Homo sapiens: one gene and its partners. The protein of the gene in region 4 purifies or fractionates together with the protein of the main gene of each other region. This does not show direct contact. Each region holds a gene or a part of one and is shown on either strand. Other genes may lie near its edges.

Region 1 (3,500 bases), on a different chromosome or scaffold from region 4:
TCACTACTATAAGCTTGACTATTTAGATTCCATATATAAGTGAGATAATGCAATATCTGTCTTTCTATGTTTGGATTGTTTCAAATAACATAAATTCCTCCATGTTCATCCATGTTGTTGCAAATGTCCAGATTTTCTTTTTTTTAAGGCTGAATAATATTCAATAGTATATCATACATGTAATTATATATATTATATGTACATATATATATATATATATATATATATATATCATACTTTTCAAATTCATTTATCTGTTGATATGGTTTGGCTGTGCCCCCACCTAAATCTCATCTTGAATTGTAGCTCCCTTAATCCTCAGGTATCATGGAAGGAACCTGGTGGGAGGTAATTGAAACACAGGGGCAAGTTTTTCCCATGCTGTTCTTATGATATTGAATAAGTCTCATGAAATCTGATGGTTTTATAAAGGGTGGTTCCCCTACACATGCTCTCTTGCCTGCCATCATGTAAGATGTGCCTTTGCTCCTCCTTTGCCTACTGCCATGATTGTGAGGCCTCCCTAGCCATGCAGAATTGTGAGTCCATTAAACCTCTTTTTCTTTATAAATTACCCAGTCTCCGATATTTCTTCCAAGCAGTATGAAAACGGACTAATACATCTGTCAATGCACATTTAGGTTATTTCCACAGCTTGATTAATATGAATAATGCTGCAGTGAACATGGGAGTGCAGATCTCTCTATGTAATAATGGTTTCCTTTGGATATATATCCAGCAGCAAAACTGCTAAATCATAAGGTAATTATATTTTTAATTTATTGAGGAATTTCTGTACTGCTTTCCATAACAGCTGTGCCAACTTACATTCCCACCAACAGAGTACAGGGGTCATGTGCCCATTTTAAAATCAGATTATGTGAGATTTTTGGCTATTAACTTACATGCACTCCTTATAAATTTTGGATATTAACTCATATATATATGTATATACATATATGGTTTATAAATATTTTGTCCCATTATTAAAGTTCCTTTTCACTCTGATGATTATCTACTTGGCTGTGCAGAAGCATTTTAGTTTGATGCAACCTCATTTGTCTATGTGGATAGCACTGTCAAATGCTTTTTCTGTGTCTACTGAAATGATCTTGTGGCTTTTTTTCTTTCAACCTATTAATGTGTTCTATTGCATTGATTTGCATGTGTTGAAAGATATTTGCATTCCAGGGACAAATCCCACTTAATCATGGTGTATCATCATTTTAATATGCTGCTGAATTTGGGTAACTAGCATTTTATTGAGGACTTTTGTATCATGTTCATCAGGAGTATTGGCCTGCGGTTTGCTTTCCTTCGTCTGGCTTTGGTATCAGGATAACACTAGCCTCATAAAATGAGTTTTAAAGTGCTTCTTCTTCTATTTGTCAGAATAATTTGAGAAGGACGAGTATTAATTCTTCTTTAAATGTCTGGTATAATTTACCCATGAAGCCATATGGTCTTGGACATTTCTTTGTTGGAAGGTTTTGACTACTGATTCAATTTCCTTATTTGTTACTTGTCTGTTTGGACTTCGAATTTCTTTTTGATTCAAGTTTCATAGATTGTATGTTTCTAGGAATTTATCTATTTTTCTAGGTTATCAAATTTGTTGGCATATAATTGTTCATAGTAGTCTCATGTCTTCTTTAATTTCTGAGGTACCCATTGTAATTTCTTCTCTTTTATTTCTGATTTTATTTATTTGAGCCTTTTCTTTTTTGCTTAGTCTAGCTAATGGTTTATTGATTTTATCTTTTCTATACGCAAAATCTTAATTTTATTGATTTTTCTCATTGTCTTTTTCAACTCTATTTAATGTATTTCTATTATAATCTTAATTATTTCCCTCGTTCTGCTAATTTTAGGCTTAGGCTTAAAGTGTTTTTCTTTTGCCACTTTCTGAAAGGGTAAAGCTAGGTTGTTTATTTGAAGTCTTTCTTCTTTCATAGCATAAGCATTTATTGCTATAAACTTCTCTCCTAGCAATGCTTTTGCTGCATCCCATAAGTTTTGTTATGCCATTTTTTTTTTGTCTCAAAATAGCTCTTAAAATTCCCTTTGATTTCCTATTTGACCCAATAATTGCTCAAGAGTGTGTTGTTCAGTGTATTAGTCCATTCTTTCATTGCTATAAAGACATACCTGAGACTGGGTAATTTATAAAGAAAAGAGGTTTAATTGGCTCGTGGTTCTGCAGACTATACAAGCATGGTGCTGACATCTGCTTGGCTTCTGAGCATATATCAGGGAGCTTTTACTCATGGTGCAAGGTGAAATGGGATCAGGTACTTCAAACGGCAAATATAGGAGCAAGGAGGAGCAGGTGCTACACACTTAAAACAACCACATTTTGCAAGAACTCACTATCACAAGGACAGCACCAAGCCATGAGGGATCAGTCCCCATGACCCAAACATCTCTGACCAGGCTTCAATTTCAGCATGGAGGGTTACAATTGACATGAGATTTGGCCTGGAGGTTTATTCAAACTATATCGTTTAGTTTCCACATATTTATAATTTTTCCTGTTTTCCTGCTGTTATTGATTTCTATTTCTATTCCATGGAGGTTGGAAAAGACACTTGGAATAATTTCAATCTTCTTAAAGTTGTTAAGACTTGTTTTGTGACCTAAGATGATTTATCTCAGAGTGCATCCCATGGGCACTTGAGAAGAATGTGAATTCTTCTGCTGTTGGGTGCAAAGTTCTGTATATGTCTGTCAGGTCCACTGGTCTACAGTGTTGTTTAAGTCAGAGGTTTCTTTATTGATTTTCTGTCTAGATAGTCTATTCATTATTGTAAGTGGGATATTAAAGTCCCATAAATTATTTTATGGCTGTCAATTTCCTACTTCAGATCTGTCAATATTTGCTTTATAATTTAGGTGCTCTGATAGAGTCATACTAATTGTCATATCTTCCTGGTGAATTGACTCCTTTACTATGTAATGATCTTTTTTTTTTTTGTCTCAAGAGATAGTTTTTGACTTAAAATCTAATTTGTCTGATATAAATTTAGCAACCCCTGCTTTGTTTTGGTTACCATTTGCATGGAATATCAGTTTCTGTCCCTTTTCTTTCATCTTATATGCGTCTTTAATTGAAAGTGAGTGCCTGAAGAACAGATGCAATTGTTTTGTTCATGTTTGCCTATTCAGGCTGTAATACTATTAAAATGTATAATTCATGAACATATTTGTATTAAATGAACAAATTATCAGCATTACTAAAAGTTCCTTTGTGTGTGTGCATATATATAAACAGCTTAGATAGATAGATGGATAGACATATATAGATATAAATATAGATATACAGGACTTAGTAGTCCAATTTTTGTTGAGTCATCTTCTTTTCTGTAATCCTAAGATTTCTGTTTTCTTTGCATTTGTACCTGACTCTGGACTCTAATTCTCCTTCACCCAAGTAATCCCTCTGGATTCCAAGATGTCTTTCCTTATTAGGTTGAATCTTTGTTGGCTTTTTTCCCCATTCT
Region 2 (3,500 bases), on a different chromosome or scaffold from region 4:
GATATTTACTAGACAGTAAACTACCAACATAGTCAAGACTTGTGAAAGCTATTGGCTTTTTATTGCCACTGAAATCGCTGTTCAGGTACCTGCTGCACAATTTTGACTTAAAAGTTATCTTTTACAGAATTACTAATAATTGGTCACTAAGCCTTGTGATATTTTTTCACATATTGGATATGTACATAAAAATTAAATAGCAGACAGTATCTATCAACTGTCTGGATGATTCTGGATGATTAGTGTTCAGAGGTGGTTAAAAATAGCTTTCCCAATATACCCAGTCATTAGATATTATTAACTAGATTTGCTTCCTCCAAAAATATTATCCCTCAATTACACACAAACATTTAATTAAAATAGATAACAGGAGAAATGTAAAAAAAAAAAAAAGTATGAAACAAACATCACTTCAAATGTCAGTAGTGAATAAAGTAAAATTCATATAAAGCAATGCTAACCTATATTTAAAATTAAAATCAGCAAGTATACCAATAATTCATGGTTTTTACTCCTTCTAGGATCATTCTGTGGGATTTTCAAAATTTATTTAATGACTTTTAAAAAAGATGAATTAGTAACACCAAAAAATAAGACTGACAATTAAATTAATGCAAGAATATAATAAGAATTTCCACTGATTACACAATCAGTGGAAACGAACAGAGAATTACAATTAGTGGCTGATGTGGACATACCCTTAAAAAAAAAATGGCAGATACCGGTCTAACTTATGTACATACTGATATAGGGAGCCATGCCAGGGTCCAGCGTTGTAATCATGCTTTCTACTGAATGTTTTGTCTTATCAAGCACAGACTTCACCATAGGATTCCCAGCCACACCCTGCATAAAACAAATCAATATGTAAGTATTCACTCTAAGTGAGGAACACCATGATCTTCATGATTGTGAAGAAAACTTTTTTAAAAGTTTCCAATGCATCCTAAACCAGTACTTTTGTAAGATATATAAGGTCATGACAATATCAAATTGCTATTAAGTTTCTAAATGATACTCTCAATTTTTTTTCCTGACTCAGCAGTGTGTAGACCAGCAGCAATCTACAGATCACGCTTTGAGTAGCATGGGTATGGAAAGGATGCTATACTATATATACATATATATGTGTGTGTATATACATATATATAATTTCACTTCTACTTATTTATATAAAAGATTGGGCAAAACTTGTCCCTTAGGGTCCCAAATAAAGGTCCCAATCAGGTGTCTACGTAAGTCCATACTTGTTCCCTAATAAAAAAAATAAAAAGAGTAAAAACACCTCTCGTCTGGGGGCAGAACAGTTACTTATTACCTTAACGTACAACATTTTGCTATCTTCTACTAGTTTCTTCTTTTTCCTACTTCTTGTTTCTTGTTTTGTACATTCCCAAACTCGCCATTTATATTCAGATCTATTCCTCTGGATTCTTAGAGCCGTTACTACTAAAAGGAACCAAGTCTTGAGTATTCCTTCTTGTGCGATACTTCACAAAGGGTAAAAGACACTCCAGGGAGCAGTGCCTCCTGAGATGGCATCTGACTAACCTGCCATGATTCCCCATCTTCCAATCTGCCATTAAACTAAGGTGACTCAGGAAAAGATGAGTTCATAAAATTGAAATTTAAGACTGCCAACCAACCATATGCTGAAACATCATGACTTACTATTTACAAGACCTATAGAGTTGAACTGGGTATTACAACTCATGACAAACACACTGACACATGCTCTTAACGAGGGACAAAATGTTGTAGTCTGTATGCAAAAAAAAACTTTTTAAAAAAGTACAGAGGGGTATTAAAAAATAAACAAGCTTAGAAAAATGCCACATTCCTGAAACATGAAGCTCAAATACTACAAATCAGCCAATCATCTACCAATTTTAAATCTTTAATATAATAATAAATTATAATTATAATAATAAAATTGCAAACAAACCCTTAGCAGAATATTGGAACTTGGCAGAATGATTTCAAAATTCATTGCAAAAAAAATTGGGAAAGATGAGTAAAGAAAAATTTAAAAGAAAAATCAGCCAGCTTATACAACTTACACAACTAAATACTGATATACATTTATAAATGCAGACTTGAACTGTCCTATCTTACTTATCACTGAATGTTCCACATCCCCACCTCAGTACACGTTAGTACAATGAACACAAAGTAAAAGTAATTAAAACAGTGTGCTCTACTACAAGAACAGGGAAACAGCAGTGGACTAGAATACAGAGGCCAGAAGCTGATTTTAACACACAATTTCTTAAGGAAGATAATATAGGGATCATACCAAATCAATGGGGATATGATATTGAAATACTCCATTGAGTAGCTGGAAGAAAATTAAGTTTGATCTCTACCTCATATAGTAAAGAAATATCAACTATATTAAACGCTAAGTGTCTAAAAAATTAAACATTAAGGGAACTAGAAAGGGATCACAGAAGAACATTTATCACAGTATCGTAGTGAGAAAAGGTCTTTTTTAGCATTAAAAAAAAATGTAAAGAAAAGGAGAGGCTGCCTGCGGTGGCTCACACCTGTAATCCCAGCACTTTGGGAGGCGAGGCGGGCAGATCGCCTGAGGTCAGGAGTTCGAGACCAGCCTGGCCAACATGGTGAACCCCCGTCTCTACTAAAAATACAAAAAAATTAGCCAGGCATGGAGGCAGATGCCTGTAATCCCAGCTACTTGGGAGGCTGAGGTAGGAGAATTGCTTGAACCCAGAAGGCAGAGGTTGCAGTAAGCCAAGATCGCACCACTGCACTCCAGCCTGGGCGACAAGAGCGAGACTTTGTCTCAAAAAAGAGAAAAGAAAAGAGAAGAAAAGAAAAAAGAAAAGAAAAGACTGACAGAACTGACTCCTGAAATTGAACTTTTCTGTCAAAAAGGGTATTAAAATGAAAATGTAAACTAAAAATTGAGAAAACTGCAACATATGAGAGCATATAGAAAAGTATTCTTACTGTATTAGGAGCTCTTACAAATTCATAAGAAAAGAAAATCATCCCAATTTAAAACTAGGCAAAGAACATAACCGATATTTCACAAAAGAAGAATACAAATGGCTAAAAATCATACGAGAAAATGTTCAAATTCAGTAGCAAAGGAAAGCAAATTAAAATGTGGTATTATTTTTTGCCTGTCAAATCAGAAAATACCCTAGTCCAAATTAATAACTACTGCTGGCAAGTGAAAAATGTTATACCAGTGTATTTTGGTATAAACCTCCTGAAGTGGAATAGGTATCAATTTCTTCAAATGTTCACTCAAATGTTCATCAGGAATTAATTCGGAGGAAAAAAAGATGTCCATAAAGATTTACATACAACAGTGCTCATCATAGTTTTTTGGTTTTTTTTTTTTTTTTTTTTTGAGACAGTGTCTCACTCTGTCACTTAGACTGGAATGTAGTATCATGATCACAGCTCAAGCAGCCTGGACCTCCTGGGCTCAAACAATCCTACCACCTTAGCCTCTGAGTACATGGGAC
Region 3 (3,500 bases), on a different chromosome or scaffold from region 4:
TATCCTCCTCATTCCCTCACCACTACTCAGCATAAGCATTTTTAATAAGTCATAATAATGACCATTTTTTTTAGCATTTTCTCTCAAGTGACAACTTTGACCATCTTGCAATGGGACTTTTTCTGTCTTACTAACATTGCTTCTCAGCTTCCTCCTATTTTCTCCTATCCCCTAAGGCTGATTTTTTGAAGAAATTGAAGAATGAAGGGGAGGGATTTGGGGAACAGAAGAAACAGCATTTAACAGCTCTTATCTCATGCAGATTAAGAGCAAAGAAGTGGCATGCATTTCCAACATTTCAGTACTTAGGGACTAGTTGATTTCTTTAGTTATTATATTGTATATATAAGTGTTTTGGAGATAGGCACATTCTGTAGATTTACTTTAATAATGTTTTCAACTGCATTTATCTGGTAATGTATGCTTTTGTCTTTGGAAATGTAGTGTGTTGGTTGTTAACAGCTGATGTTTAGCAAATGCTACTATTTTTTAGAAAGTATTTTGTAAAAGTGTTCTTCTCTATTCAGTTTTTATTGTTTAACTTTAGCTCTTCCTTGTGTTGCTGGTGGTGTACACCAAAATAACTTGTATAATAAGCTAAGTGGCTCCTTTACTTAGGACTGGGCTCATTTAAATGTATATATATATGTATTTTTTTTCAGACTCTGTTGGAACTAGGAGCAGCGTATCTGTACAAATTACTGTTCGTTGAATGAATGAATGAGTGAATAAACATCCATCTCTCCTGTTTAAAAAGAAACAAACCTTCACTATTATTAACTCCCTTAAACCAAAAACTTAATTTGAAAACTCCATAGTCAGCAGTGTTTGTCCCCCAGCTCAGTCTGTGGTTTTGATGGAGACTTTTTAGACCTCCTTTCAAACAGCTCTGGGATTCTGTTTGATTTGTGGTACCCGCAGGGTGGCTTCTGGTCTTTCTCGTCCTGCTCCTCTTCTCCATCTTCACTGTGTCTTTTCCTGTTTCCATCCATTCACTTCTCTTGATGTCACGACATGACACCATGGCCCAGGCTGTGATCACACGAAAACAGGAGTGAGAACTCTTCTTTGTTTATATAGCACCTTTCATCCCTGCACAGACACTAGCTCATTAGTTCACCGAGTCAGACGGCCCTCTTGCACAGGGAAGACATGCCCATGATCCCCATTCCAGAGAAGAGAGGTGAGGCAGTTGCCTAAGATCCCATGAAGGGTCTAAAGTAAACCCTTTGACTCCGATTGAAGTTCTTTACTGGCCTTTACATTTTACATATATATATGTGTGTGTGTGTGTGTGTGTATGTGTGTGTGTATGTGTGTGTGTGTGTGTGTGTGTATAGTTGAATGAATGAGTGAATAAACACGCATCTCTCCTGTTTAAAAATATATATATATATACTTCATCTGGTTCTTTCCATTTACCATTACACATGAGTTCTCTAACTGCTTACTGAGGGCTGACTGTGCCGGGCATCGTGCTTGGTGCCATCCCCTACAGATGCCAGTAGGGCAGCCCTTGTGCCCTTGCCTGTACCTCACAGAGGTCAGGAGGGCTGCTGGAGCAGGTGGCAGGCCCCGCTTGCTGTAAATGAAAGCCTTCCCCAGAAGGATGAGTCTGTTCTGAAGCCAAGGGGCCGCTGGCCTCTAGAGCATCTGTGTGGCAGAGGGTGGAGTCATGGGAGAAATACTCAGGAATCCAGGAGAACTGTCACTTGGGCAAATTACTCACTTTCCTGGGGCTCCTCCTCCTCTATAATAGAAGATCAGGTCCCACGTAGAAGACTTTAAGGGCAACCATCATATACTTCCAGACTTCTAATAATTAAATAATGGAAGTCAGCATTTATTGAGCATTTGTGCTTAGGCTTTGTGCTTTACTCCCAATGTAATTTCATTCTCACCTCAACTTCCTGAGGTGAACAGAGTGATTTCAGTGTCATTTCAGTTTCAAGAAACATACTCAGGGTCACACAGCCAGTAAGTGGTGCAACTGAACCCAGGCTTGTCTCAACAACAAAGCCTGTAAAACTGTCCTATACACACACGTACACACATACACTTGTATTTTAAGCCGTGATTTTGTACATTCTACAGTACACTGTTGTCTTTTTTTTTTTTTTTTTGAGACGGTGTCTTGCTCTGTCACCCAGGCTGGAGTGCAGTGGCATGATCTCGGCTCACTGCAACCTCCACCTCCCAGGTTCAAGCAATTCTTCTGCCTGGGCCTCCCAAGTAGCTGGGACTACAGGCACATGCCACCATGCCCAACTAATTTTTGTATTTTTAGTAGAGATAGGGTTTCACCATGTTAGCCAGGATGGTCTCGATCTCTTGACTTCATGATCTGCCCGCTTCAGCCTCCCAAAGTGCTGGGATTACAGGCATGAGCCACCACATTTGGCCTCTGTTTTAAAATAGTCATTTTGGGAAATACATTGTTTCTGGCTTGAGATTCCTACTTCTATGCTGAAACTCAAACTATTTTTGTTGCCTATATGGAGCCTTTTGATCAATCATTCCTTGAACCATTCTACCGAAGTTGCTTGCTGACACTCTGGTCATAATTCTCTGCTTTGCATTTCCAGGTCATTAAAACACCAATGACCAGCCAGAAGACATTTGAATCTTTGGTAGACTTTAGCAAAGCCCTAGGAAAGCATCCTGTTTCTTGCAAGGTAAGAGTATGGGTAGCTTGGGAAGGAGGTAGTTCTTTTCTTCTTGGACCCTGACTTGTTCCTGGTAGAATTCTTCTCATAGAATGATGTGAAAGAAGGAGCATTGTATACTGCAAGCTTGTCCACATGCTGTAAAGAGCAATCCGTGCCTCCTGTTCTAGTTTGTAGACAGGGAAACTGGACTCCTAAGCCATGCCTAAGGCCATTATGTGGATAGTCTGAGACCTGAATGGAGCTCAGGACACCAGCTGAGTAGAAGACACGGGACTGCTCTCTGTCCTGGCTTTTGTCTCCTGATGAATGGCTGCATTTTCATAAATGATTTTAGGTACAGCTTGGTAAACACATACCTCCCTAACAGAAAATGAGGGCTTTACTTTTGCAAGAAATACTACAGATGGTGAAATAAATGATAAGACAGTGAGAGAGCAACCTGCCAAAATAGCAATAAGGAACCTGTTTCTCACCGGGAAGTTGCATTATGTTTTTATTGTTTGTTGTTTTGTTTTTCAAGAAGCAGCATGGTTTAGTGGGAAGCCTGCTTGACCTCCATCTTTTTTTTCCCCTTTCTTAAGCTGCCCAGTTATTGTATATAAAATAATCCCAGTTGCTGAAATGATAACCTACCTGAAGGTAATTATTTTGATTACCTTCAGTTTCTCCATTTGCTTTAGTTCCTCTTTAGTTCCCCCAAAACTCGGGGACTATACTTATGCATGACTTTGCAGTTTTTCTTAAGGGGTAGTTGTGTCACAAAATGCTACACCATTACAAAGATTTACATATAAGTCATCTACTTTTTTTTTAACTGTAATCCTTTGTATC
Region 4 (3,500 bases):
GAAACCCCATCTCTACTAAAACTACAAAAAATTAGCCAGGTGTTGCAGCAGGTGCCTGTAGTCCCAGCTACTCTGGAGGCCAAGGGAGGAGACTTGCTTGAACCTAAGAGGCGGAGGTTGCAGTAAGCTGAGATATTGCACCATTGCACTCCAGCCTGGGCAACAAGAATGAAACTCCATCTCTAAATAAATAAATAAATAGTGTAAATAAATACTGTATAAAATGCAAAGCACTCAGAATAGCCAAAACAATTTTGAAGTCAGAAAATAGCACTTACATGCTCTGATTTTAACATTACCTATAAAGCTGTTGTAAACAAGACAATGTGGTTTTGGCATAAGGACAGAGAAAGAGAACAGAGTTCAGAAATAGACCCAGACTTATGCTTGTTTTCAACAAAGGCATCAATGGAATGAAATGGAGAAATTAAAGTCTTTTCAACAAATGGTGCTGGAATAACAGATTACTCACATGGGAAAGATGAACCTAGATCCCTACCTCACACCCTATATAAAAGCTAATTTGAGATAAATCGTGGATTTAAAAATAAAAGCAAAAAATGTAAAGCTTCTAGAAGTATATATAAGAGAATAGCTTTTACAGGGTGCAGTGGCAGGTGCCTATAGTCCCAGCTACTAGGGAGGCTGTGGTGGGAGGATCACTTGAGGCCAGCAGTTTGAGGTTGTATAGTATACTATGGTTGATTTTGCCTGTTAGTAGCTGCTGCACTCCAGCCTGGTCAACATAGTGAGACATCATCCAACAAAAAAAAAAAAAAAGAAAGAAAAACAGCTTGATAAGTAAAGACAAGACATAGAAAGCAAAGCAATAACTTTTTTGTGTGTGTGTGTGGAGACGGGTCTCACTCTGGCACCCAGATTGGAGTGCAGTGGCTCAATCTTGGCTCACTGCAACCCCCACCTCAGCCTCCTGAGTAGCTGGGACCACAGGTACTCACCACCATGCCTGGCTAATTTTTTGTATTTTTTGTAGAAATGGGGTTTCACCATGTTGCCCAGGCTGGCCTCAAACTCCTGAGCTCAAGGGATCCTCCCACCTCAGCCTCCCAAAGTGCTGGGATTACAGGTGTGACCCACCAAACCTGGCCAATTCTCACATTTGTAGAAGAGAGTTACAAATACGGAAAGGGAGAAGAATGTAGCTTGTGGTGTTAGGTTGCATTTTGGAGAACTCAAAATGCAGTATGAACTCAAGGTGTTACCATGAGTGTGTGTGTATATGTAAAATTATAAATAATACATATGGAAGTTTCTACTGAACAGACCTAGAAACAATGACAAACCAGTAACAACAAGCAGTCCTGACACCCAGATCTTCTAAATACATTTATCCACTAAAAGGAACTAAGGTTGTTTGGAGAAATGGCCCTTTCCAAGGCTAGGGAAAAAATGCTAAAAAATTAAGGACATGCTCAGGGACATGTTGAAAGCACACAGGAGGCAGCCTACGGGGCTTCCACTTTCCTGTAGTGGAATTTTGAACAATTTGAGCATCAGAGTCAGTAATGATAGTAATGGGTTGTAACTGCCCAAATTTTGAACAATTTCAGCGTGCAAATAAGTTATGATAGTAATGGGTTGTAACTGCCTAAATTTTGAACAATTTCAGCGTGCAAATAAGTAATGATAGTAATGGGTTATAACTGCCCAAGTATTGAAAAATTTCAGCATCAAAGTAAGTAATGAGAGTAATGAGTTATAACTTATTCAATAAAATGAAAATGTATGAGTCCATCCTGATATAAATAACTGAATAAATGGGAGAAAAGGAAAAGGTTTTCTTTGTGGTAAAATGCCAATTAATATCTTACCAATAGAAGGAATGTTGGAGTTAGAAAGTCATGAATGAATGCTAAAACTAGTGGGTGAAAATATGATGGGGAAGAAGATATTTGGATAATCCAAAAAGAACCTCTGATAAATTATTGATTACTTATAAATGAAAAAATGGTACCTTTAAAAGCTAGAAACCTGGTGAATACCAAACCATTTTAACCAAGTGATCAAAGATAACATCACCTGGGATAAACTGATTGTCATTTGTGTCCTAATAAGACTCACTGAGAAAAATCATACTATCATTCAGTGGTATACCTGCCTTTTGGCAGAATCTTAATCTAATTCTGAGGAAACATCAGACAAATCAAAATTGATGACCCTTAACAAAAGAACTCGCCCATGTTCTTCAAAAATATCAAGCTTAAGAAGCATAGTCTGAAGAACTGTTACAGACAAAAGCAAACTAGAGAGATTGATAGTTGTACAATGCATGCTTCTTTATTGGCTCAAATAAAGGAGCTAGAAGGACATTACTGAAATATAGGTGAAATTTGAATGTGGACCAAGGATTAGATAATAGTGTTTGATTCATGTTAAATTTCCTGATTTTTGTTTTGTTTTGTGAGACAGGGTCACCCAGGCTGGAGTGCAGAGGCACAATCATGGCTCACTGCAGCCTTGAACTCCTAGGCTCAAGTGATCCTTCTGCCTCAGCCTCCCAAGCAGCTAGGACTACTAGCTACATGGCACACACACCATGCCCGGCTAAATTTATTTTTAATGGAGACAGGGTCTCGCTGTGCCCAGGCTGGTCTCAAACTCCTGGGCTCAAGTGATCCTCCCACCTCGGCCTCCCAAAATGCTGGGATTACAGGTGTGAGCCGCCACACTTGGCCCAATTTCTTGAGTTTTATAACTGTGCTTATGTAAGAAAGTGGCCTTGTTTTGGGGAAGTATACACTGAAATTAAAATTTAAGAGTAAGAAGGCATTGTATCTCCAACTTTCTCTCAGATGGTTCAGAAAGAAAATATTAAAGCAAATGGAGGGAAAATATAAATGGTGACTCTGGGTGAAGGAAATTTCTGTAAGTTTACAATTATATAGAAAGGGAAGGAGAGAAGTATGACTCCTGAGAGTCACTGCAACATTTCCAAACCAACTGCCAGTGGCAGGCAGGGCCACCCCACACAGAGCATTGCACAGGCCACCATGAGCCTGCTAGCATATGTGGTCAGTCAGTGCTTGGTCAAATGTGGACGACTTGAGCTATCAAATGCCAGTTCATGAAAATGTTAGTTTTTTGCTGTTTTTCTCCTTTCCCAGCTGAAAATGTAGCCAAAAAATGGCAAGTGAGTAGAGAAGATCAGGACAAGGTTGCAGTTCTGTCCCAGAACAGGACAGAGAATGCACAGAAAGCTGGCCATTTTGACAAAGAGATTGTACCAGTTTTGGTGTCAACTAGAAAAGGTGAGTATATCATAGTGGTTTAAACATCAACCTATTTATAGGTAAGAGTAACATCTAAAAGAGTAATACATAGGAATCTTTAGAAATTATATCTTAGTTATGTTTTTCAGGTTGCAAATATATGTCCTGGATACATGAATGTGGGGAGGGGGTATGCTGGGTTTACAGGACACGGTAACATGGGACCTATGTCAGCACTCAAGCACTCTTGGTTCCAGAGCGTCCATGACC
Region 5 (3,500 bases), on a different chromosome or scaffold from region 4:
CAGGTGTATCACCTGAGGTCAGGAGTTCGAGACCAGCCTGGCCAACATGGTGAAACCCTGTTTCCACGAAAAATACAATAAACTAGCTGGGCATGGTGGTACGTGCCTGTAATCCCAGCTACTTGGGAGGCTGAGACACGAGAATCGCTTGAACCTGGGAGGCAGAGGTTGTAGTGAGCCGAGATTGCGCCACTGCACTCCAGCCTGGGTGACAGAGTGAGACTCCATCTCAAAAATAAATATATAAAATAAAATTGAGATATAGTTCAGAAAGCCCACCAAGATCTGAATTATTTAAACCTGTGTCCAAATTGTTTTTGTTCTCATTATCTTGCAATTGTTTTTCTTTGCATACAGGCTCGTGAGCCCTTGGTTGTGTTTCTCCCTTTTTTCTCTCACTGTTTTTTTTCTTTTCCTTTTTGAGACGGGTCTCACCCTGTTGCCCAGGCTGGCATGCAGTGACACAGTCATAGCTCACTGCAGCCTCAGCCTCAACCTTCCAGGCTCAAGCGATCCTCCGACCTCAGCCTCCAAAGTAGCTGGGACTACTGCTGTGCGACACCATGCCTGGCTAATTTTTGAATTTTTATTTTTAGAGATGGGGTCTCCCTATTTTGGCCAGTCTGGTCTCAAACTCCTGGGCTCAAGAGATCCTCCAGCCTCGGCCTCCCAAAGTGCTGAGATTACAGGTGTGAGCCACTGTGCCTGGCCTCAGGATGAGTGCTTTCTTAGATTTAGATTTCTTCAAGGGCAGATTTAGATTTCTTCAAGTTCTGAGTAGCTTTGAACACGATGCTACAGGGTTTAGTGTTTAACAGAGATTTGCTGGGTTTAGTGTTTAACAGATATTTATTACAAGGGGAAAGTAAATTCATGGTGACAGGTTACTGTTTCTAATTGGTGCATTGACGAATAAAGTGTAGAATTGAGAGATTTACCTCGGTCATCTCTTCAGCGATCCATCTAGAAGCCTAAAGTTTAAAATTGTGTGCAGCAGGGCAGTGAGGCCCCTTAGCTTTGGACATTTGTTAGAATTCTCTCTCTTTATTCTGCTGATGAATGAATGCTCTAAATTGGGTTTTGAAGTTGTTAAACAGAAATGTGAAAATCAGAATTTATATTTTGTTATACTTGCCATTTGAGTAATTTTTCATTTTAAAACAAAATTGCTTAACTTTTGGTTAAGCTAATAAGTTTTTTTCCCAAAAATCTTACTTTGACATGGTTTTAGTTTGTGCCACGACTAATTCCTATAGAGGATTGAGTGAATACTAAACATAAGCAGTCATTCCTTGTTGTCAAGATGGTTCTAGAAATAAGGAAGCCACAGCTTCATCAAAGGATTCCTGTAAATATGGTTTTTGGAGGTACATAGTCCACATTATAGCTCTTAGTAGATATGTAGTCTATTTGGGGGTAGATAATTGTGATCAGAGTGCAGAGGGTAGGTGCTAGAACTCCTTCACAGTTAAGCGGCACTTAACACAGTTAAGTTTTAAGAAAAAACACACAAGATCTGTGACTACGGTTATTTAGTGAGCTGTAGCTTTAGGGCCAGACAAAATATGATGAGTGTTTCTGTTTGGCTCTTCCCAAAGGCCCAGAGGATGAAAAGATTTTAAGGCTAACTTGAAATATGGTTGTTATTATCCCCAAGGTGCCCAGACAGCAGCGTTTCATTGCTCTTCCCAGGTATGTGTAGGACGGTATCAGAAATGACCATGTCATCCTTCATTTGCAGATGAGGAACTCTGCCCAGGGAGGCTGTGATATAGCCCTTGCCAAAGGCTGTTTGTAAGGCCTTGAAGGCCCTGACTCAGTTTATGAAACTTACATGACTCCTTCCAATGAATTTGCTTACAAAGAATTTTTTTTCTTTTCAGTGAACATTTAGGTTAGAAATAGGGCCCCTTGAGCTCTTTTTATCAACACGTACTCACAGAACATGGTCTAGGGGCTTTAATTTAGGGCAGGTGCATTATATGACACCATCTTTGTTTCTTCAGTGACTCAGAATCTGTGAAATTATTTGAACAGCTGCTTTTGTGTAAGCTTGCTAACATGCAGGGTGACTGTCTCAATCTGTGCCCGTCAGTGTTCATTCTTCTGTACTCGTTATTTTCAAATCCTGTTGAGTGCCCACTTTTTCTTTTAGTTTTGTTAACTTTTTACGTACTTTGCCTTTCGTTGTTTGGGACTCTGTAGAGTGAATATAGGAGGATTTCTTCCACAGATCTGCTCCTGTCGTGCCACTTGCATAAACCTCATTGTGGTGACTTGGCTGTTTTCTGTTATGGCCTCAGTTGATGTTGCAGTGAGTGCTACACCATGATGGTGAGGTCCGTTTGCACCCCAGCTGGTGAGCACAGGATCCTCTTTGCCAAACTGCAGAAAGAATTCCCTTGTCTCGCTGCCTCCGCTTCTCCCCACTGCGTGTCTATAGTACTGTGCCTCGAACCTTCTCTGCCCACTTGTGTTGTCCTTACAGCTGATCCTATTTTCCTTGACTCCTCCCATGTGACTTACTACATTGCTGGGGGGAATGAATGTGTGAATACAGTACCTAGCATGTGGCAAACGCTGTCTAAGTAAGGGTGTGATGGTGTTTATTATTCCTACTGAGTGCTTAAGCATGGGAAGTCAGGTATCACATTTTCGTGTTTTGTTTTTTTTTTTCTTTTGGGGAAAAAGAACTTGTTTGGTGTTGAGAGCTGTCAATAAAGCAAGGCCTGTGATTGGCAAAATTGGTTATGGGTGTAGCTATAGGAGATGTATGTACTATACAGCTGTTTACTTATCCCTGAATTTCCACAATGCAAACAATGTTTGGGAGGCTGACCAATGGGTTATATAGGAATCTCAATTTTCAAATGTGAATTGGTAGTTATAATTTTGAATTTCTGTATTTTCCATTAATGTTCACTTAATTTTCATTCAGTTAGACCTATGGTAGTGTTATGTCCATTAAGATACAAGCAATTAATGAGTATTTTTCTTGATTATTTTTACAATATTAGGGACAAGTCTATATTTTCATAAACTGTTTTCAGTTGTCTCTGCTCTTTCTTCTTTAAGCAATACAGATTTACACAACTTTTTTCTCTTTCAGCTTTAACAATCTGCTTTGTATGTGACATGTAAGGATTTGGTTTTCTGTAAATACATACTTTCACACACATACCTTATATGGTGTGACTAGTAATGTAACTAATTTTTAATATTATTTACCTCTAAAAAAGTGTTCAGATATTCAAATAAATGAAAGTCGTTTTCTATAAAGTTAATGAACATATTCTAACAAAGTTCCTATGCAAGCATTTTGAGAACTGTTTTTTTTTTGTTTTTTTTTGAGACAGAGTCTTGCTCTGTCACCCAGGCTGGAGTACAGTGGTGCAATCTTGGCTCACTGCAACCTCCGCCTCCCGGGTTCAAGTGATTCTCCTGTCTCAGCCTCCCGAGTAGCTGGGATTACAGGTGTGCACCACCATGCCTGGCTGATT
Region 6 (3,500 bases), on a different chromosome or scaffold from region 4:
GGGAAGTCTTAATATTGGCCTATCTTAAAACGAAAATAAAACAAAACTTCAAATACGTTTAATAATTCTTAAATTTACTATTTACTTAAATTTTTAAAATACTAATCCAAAAAATCAAACCTTACCTGATCGTTTAATTGCCTAATTGTTTTCTCTATATGTGGCAAAAGGCCCCGAAATGTGAACTCTTGTATAAACTGTCGAATTCTATCATGATCAGTAAGTGTTAAACATGCACCATGAATTATTCCAGTATTTCCTTTCTTTGTTTCATGTAACGATGAAGCAGATCTTAGATGATCTGGGCCATCAATACTGTTAGAAGGGTCACTGGATTGCTCCAACTGAAGTGGGTGAGCTCTAAAGTTATTTGGTAAGCCATCTACTGAAAAAGAGATTATTTCTTTTACTCTCAGAATGCAACAGAAAACAGTGCTAATACTACCATACTGCTAAAGAAAAAAAAAAAGCAGAATGTTAAAATCCTTTATCTTTCAGTATAGGTAAATGTCTAAGATAAAACAGCAGTAACATCCCCCAGCCCCAAAATTAATGAGCTTGAGTTAATATTTGTTTTGGTACCTGTATTAGTAATTTGAAAATCGGTATAAACCAGGAAATGGAGAAAAATACTTTATTTTAAATAATATAAAGAATGACTTTTAAATAGTACAACTAAGCCGTAAGAAAAAATATAACAAAAAAAATTTGTTATCATTACAAAAATCATAAAGTCAGAAATAAAGCTCTCAAAATCATGTAAATTTTTAAATAATTAATGCTGTGCATCACATCTTCCCTTGCTTTCTACAAAATATTTTAAAAGAAATCTATACACTACTCATATAAAACAAATTTTTAAGTGTCAAAAACAAACTCAAGTAGCTCAGTAAAATCTTCAGAAGAAAAACTAACCTGCCCAATATCTTTCTGTATTATGAAAAATTTCCCCCATCTTTTATCTATAAAGGTTAGCATGATCTGACAACAGTGCATATTTTCAATCAAAAGAGAAACTTAGAGAAAATATATCAAGACCTTTGACTTCGTTATCTAATCCATCCAATGAAAGCAAGTTATTATCAGAATTCTTATTTGAAGTTATAGTACAAGGGCCATCTTCATATGATTCCTATCAAAATAAAATTTAAAAAGCATTAGCAGTTATACTTAATCATACTTAATATACTATCAAATCCATCAACAACTATGGTTACTCTGCTAACTGTTGGCCTCATTTATTTGCTACAGTGAGCATTTTCTCGTCCTCCAAATTCATAACTTCTTCCATGGATCTTATTCTATCACTCCAACTCACACCTACTATATTCTTAAATCCCCTTTCACACTCAAGCTACTATCCTAATTCTTCTTAATTCAAATTATCTCTCAGGATATCTACTTATATATGATATGTATATACACGAGTGTTCATATAAGCACATACATATGCTTATGCCTCTTAAGTAAGGAATAATGGCAAGAGAGATGGACTACTAGAGTCAGACGGGGAAAGAAGAGAGGCACAGATATGAAATTCTTTGGGTCACAGTGTAAGCAGGTTGGAGTGAATTCTGAATATACTGAAGTGTTTTAGAAAAATATCTAACGCAACGTTTATTTGTGCAAAGGAACTGGTTTCTCAGTTAACAAAAAAACACTTAAACTAAAAATACCCAGACTACTCTACAAGACCAGTAAATATGATGTATTATTCTGAGTGTCACACTTTGAGGGAATTTACATAAACTAGAACTCAAGAAGAAAGTGACCAGGACAAGAAAGTCTGAAGCCACTCCTTGAGAAAGAGTTGCAGAAACTAGGCATATTTAGACTGGAAAAATATAAAAGAGGACATGAGAATTATCCTTCTATATTTTGAAAGTTGTCTTAATGGAAAACTAACATAGTCACTCCCAAAGGATCAAGCGTACAAGCAAAGGTCAAGAATTTTTTATTGATCCTTAAGCAAAATGAGAGAATTTTTGGGTGATCAGACATGCAATAGGTCACTTAATAAGAATACAGTGAGTACTGTCAACAGACGCAGTCATTCGTAAGTTTAAAGAAATTAAAGCATTAGATCAAGCATTGGATGTAAAACCTCTAAACTATTCTCCAACTTTGAGCTTCTAGGATGCTAAGGCATAGATTTCTGATATTTCTGCTTTCTGCTAAAAGTTCTCATACTGCACAATCTTCTTCATGTTCCCCTTCACAACCTTAGGTGACTGAACTCTAAAGTGTATTTTTTTCAGTACTGTTCTTATTCTTAGAATGGCCCCTAAAAGACCATTTTTAAAAATAAAGTTCCTTCACATCCAACTGGTACTTCTTTGCTTTTCCCCAGCATTATCTTAAAGAACGTCAGTAATCACCTCAATACTAAAGTCAGTAAAATACCATGATAGCACTACATTTAGATTTAAAGATTCCATTTATGAGACAGAAAAATAAAGCAAATAAACAGATTAAACAATACTTATATCAGAAGATCAAAAATTACATAAGCTTTGTAATTGATTTTTTAAATGTCACACACAGAGTGCATAATATAGTTTAATTGAACAATATAAATATATTTTCCATTTACTTAAGAATTTCTAGGCCAGGCGCTGTGGCTTACGCCTGTAATATCAACACTCTGGGAGGCTGAGGCGTGTGGATCACTTGAGGTCAGGAGTTCAAGACCAGCCTAGCCAACAGGGTGAAACCCTGTCTCGACTAAAAATGAATCGCTTGAACCCAGGAGGTGGAGGTTGCAGTGAGCCGAGATCTCGCCACTTCACTCCAGCCTGGGCAACAGAGTGAGACTCCGTCTCAAAAAAAAAAAAAAATTTCTGGCCGGGTGTGGTGGCTCAGCACTTTGGGAGGCTGAGGCAGGGGGATAACTTGAGGTCAGGAGTTCGAGACCAGTCTGGACAACATGGTGAAACCCCATCTCTACTAAAAATACAAAAATTAGCCAGGCGTGGTGGCGGGCGCCTGTAATCCCAGCTACTCGGGAAGCTGAGGCATGAGAATAATTTGAATCCAGGAGGCAGCTGTTGCAGTGAGCCGAGATCATGCAGTGAGCCGAGATCATGCCACTGCACTCCGGCCTGGGCGATAGAGTAAGACTCCGTCTCAAAAAAAAAAAAAAAAAAAAAAAAGAATTTCTTCTAGGCCGGCATGATGGCTCACACCTGTAATCCCAGCACTTTGGGAGACCAAGGCCTGGGCGACAGAGCGAGATCCTGTCTCAAAAAAAAAAAAAAAAAAAATTTTCTTCTAAACAAAAAACAGTGACTCTCGATTATCTGAACTAAGCATAGGAACTTGGCATTTGACTACTACCAAGCGGCATACTATTGTACCTTAGAAGTCTGACAAAACATCAAACGCCCATCAACTTAAGCCAATAGGACAATCAATCTTATTCTAGAACTCGAGGTTAAGAAAGGAGTAATTAAAAAACAGTAACTCCTGAGAGTACATAAAGAAGGGAAATCAACGGAAAG

What was found.
Region 1: the proteins of ACAT2 (region 4) and FAM174A purify together in Homo sapiens (co-immunoprecipitation; one large-scale study listed by IntAct). This does not show direct contact.
Region 2: the proteins of ACAT2 (region 4) and PRRC1 fractionate together in Homo sapiens (co-fractionation; one large-scale study listed by BioGRID). This does not show direct contact.
Region 3: the proteins of ACAT2 (region 4) and HADH fractionate together in Homo sapiens (co-fractionation; one large-scale study listed by BioGRID). This does not show direct contact.
Region 5: the proteins of ACAT2 (region 4) and TTC39C fractionate together in Homo sapiens (co-fractionation; one large-scale study listed by BioGRID). This does not show direct contact.
Region 6: the proteins of ACAT2 (region 4) and TRAPPC8 purify together in Homo sapiens (affinity purification with mass spectrometry, with the first as the bait; one large-scale study listed by BioGRID). This does not show direct contact.

The regions. Positions count from the first base shown.
Region 1 is NC_000005.10:100,562,874-100,566,373, reverse strand, and holds part of FAM174A (membrane protein FAM174A precursor), read right to left. Parts: intron 1-3,500.
Region 2 is NC_000005.10:127,527,640-127,531,139, reverse strand, and holds part of PRRC1 (protein PRRC1), read right to left. Parts: intron 847-3,500; coding exon 744-846; intron 1-743. UniProt on the Homo sapiens protein: May act as a regulator of the protein kinase A (PKA) activity during embryonic development.
Region 3 is NC_000004.12:108,020,889-108,024,388, forward strand, and holds part of HADH (hydroxyacyl-coenzyme A dehydrogenase, mitochondrial isoform 2 precursor), read left to right. Parts: intron 1-2,585; coding exon 2,586-2,675; intron 2,676-3,500. UniProt on the Homo sapiens protein: Mitochondrial fatty acid beta-oxidation enzyme that catalyzes the third step of the beta-oxidation cycle for medium and short-chain 3-hydroxy fatty acyl-CoAs (C4 to C10).
Region 4 is NC_000006.12:159,772,045-159,775,544, forward strand, and holds part of ACAT2 (acetyl-CoA acetyltransferase, cytosolic), read left to right. Parts: intron 1-3,125; coding exon 3,126-3,269; intron 3,270-3,500. UniProt on the Homo sapiens protein: Involved in the biosynthetic pathway of cholesterol.
Region 5 is NC_000018.10:24,084,254-24,087,753, forward strand, and holds part of TTC39C (tetratricopeptide repeat protein 39C), read left to right. Parts: intron 1-3,500.
Region 6 is NC_000018.10:31,908,629-31,912,128, forward strand, and holds part of TRAPPC8 (trafficking protein particle complex subunit 8), read right to left. Parts: intron 1,133-3,500; coding exon 1,039-1,132; intron 1,017-1,038; exon of another isoform or gene 956-1,016; coding exon of another isoform or gene 916-955; intron 386-915; coding exon of another isoform or gene 383-385; coding exon 126-382; intron 1-125. UniProt on the Homo sapiens protein: Plays a role in endoplasmic reticulum to Golgi apparatus trafficking at a very early stage. Maintains together with TBC1D14 the cycling pool of ATG9 required for initiation of autophagy. Involved in collagen secretion.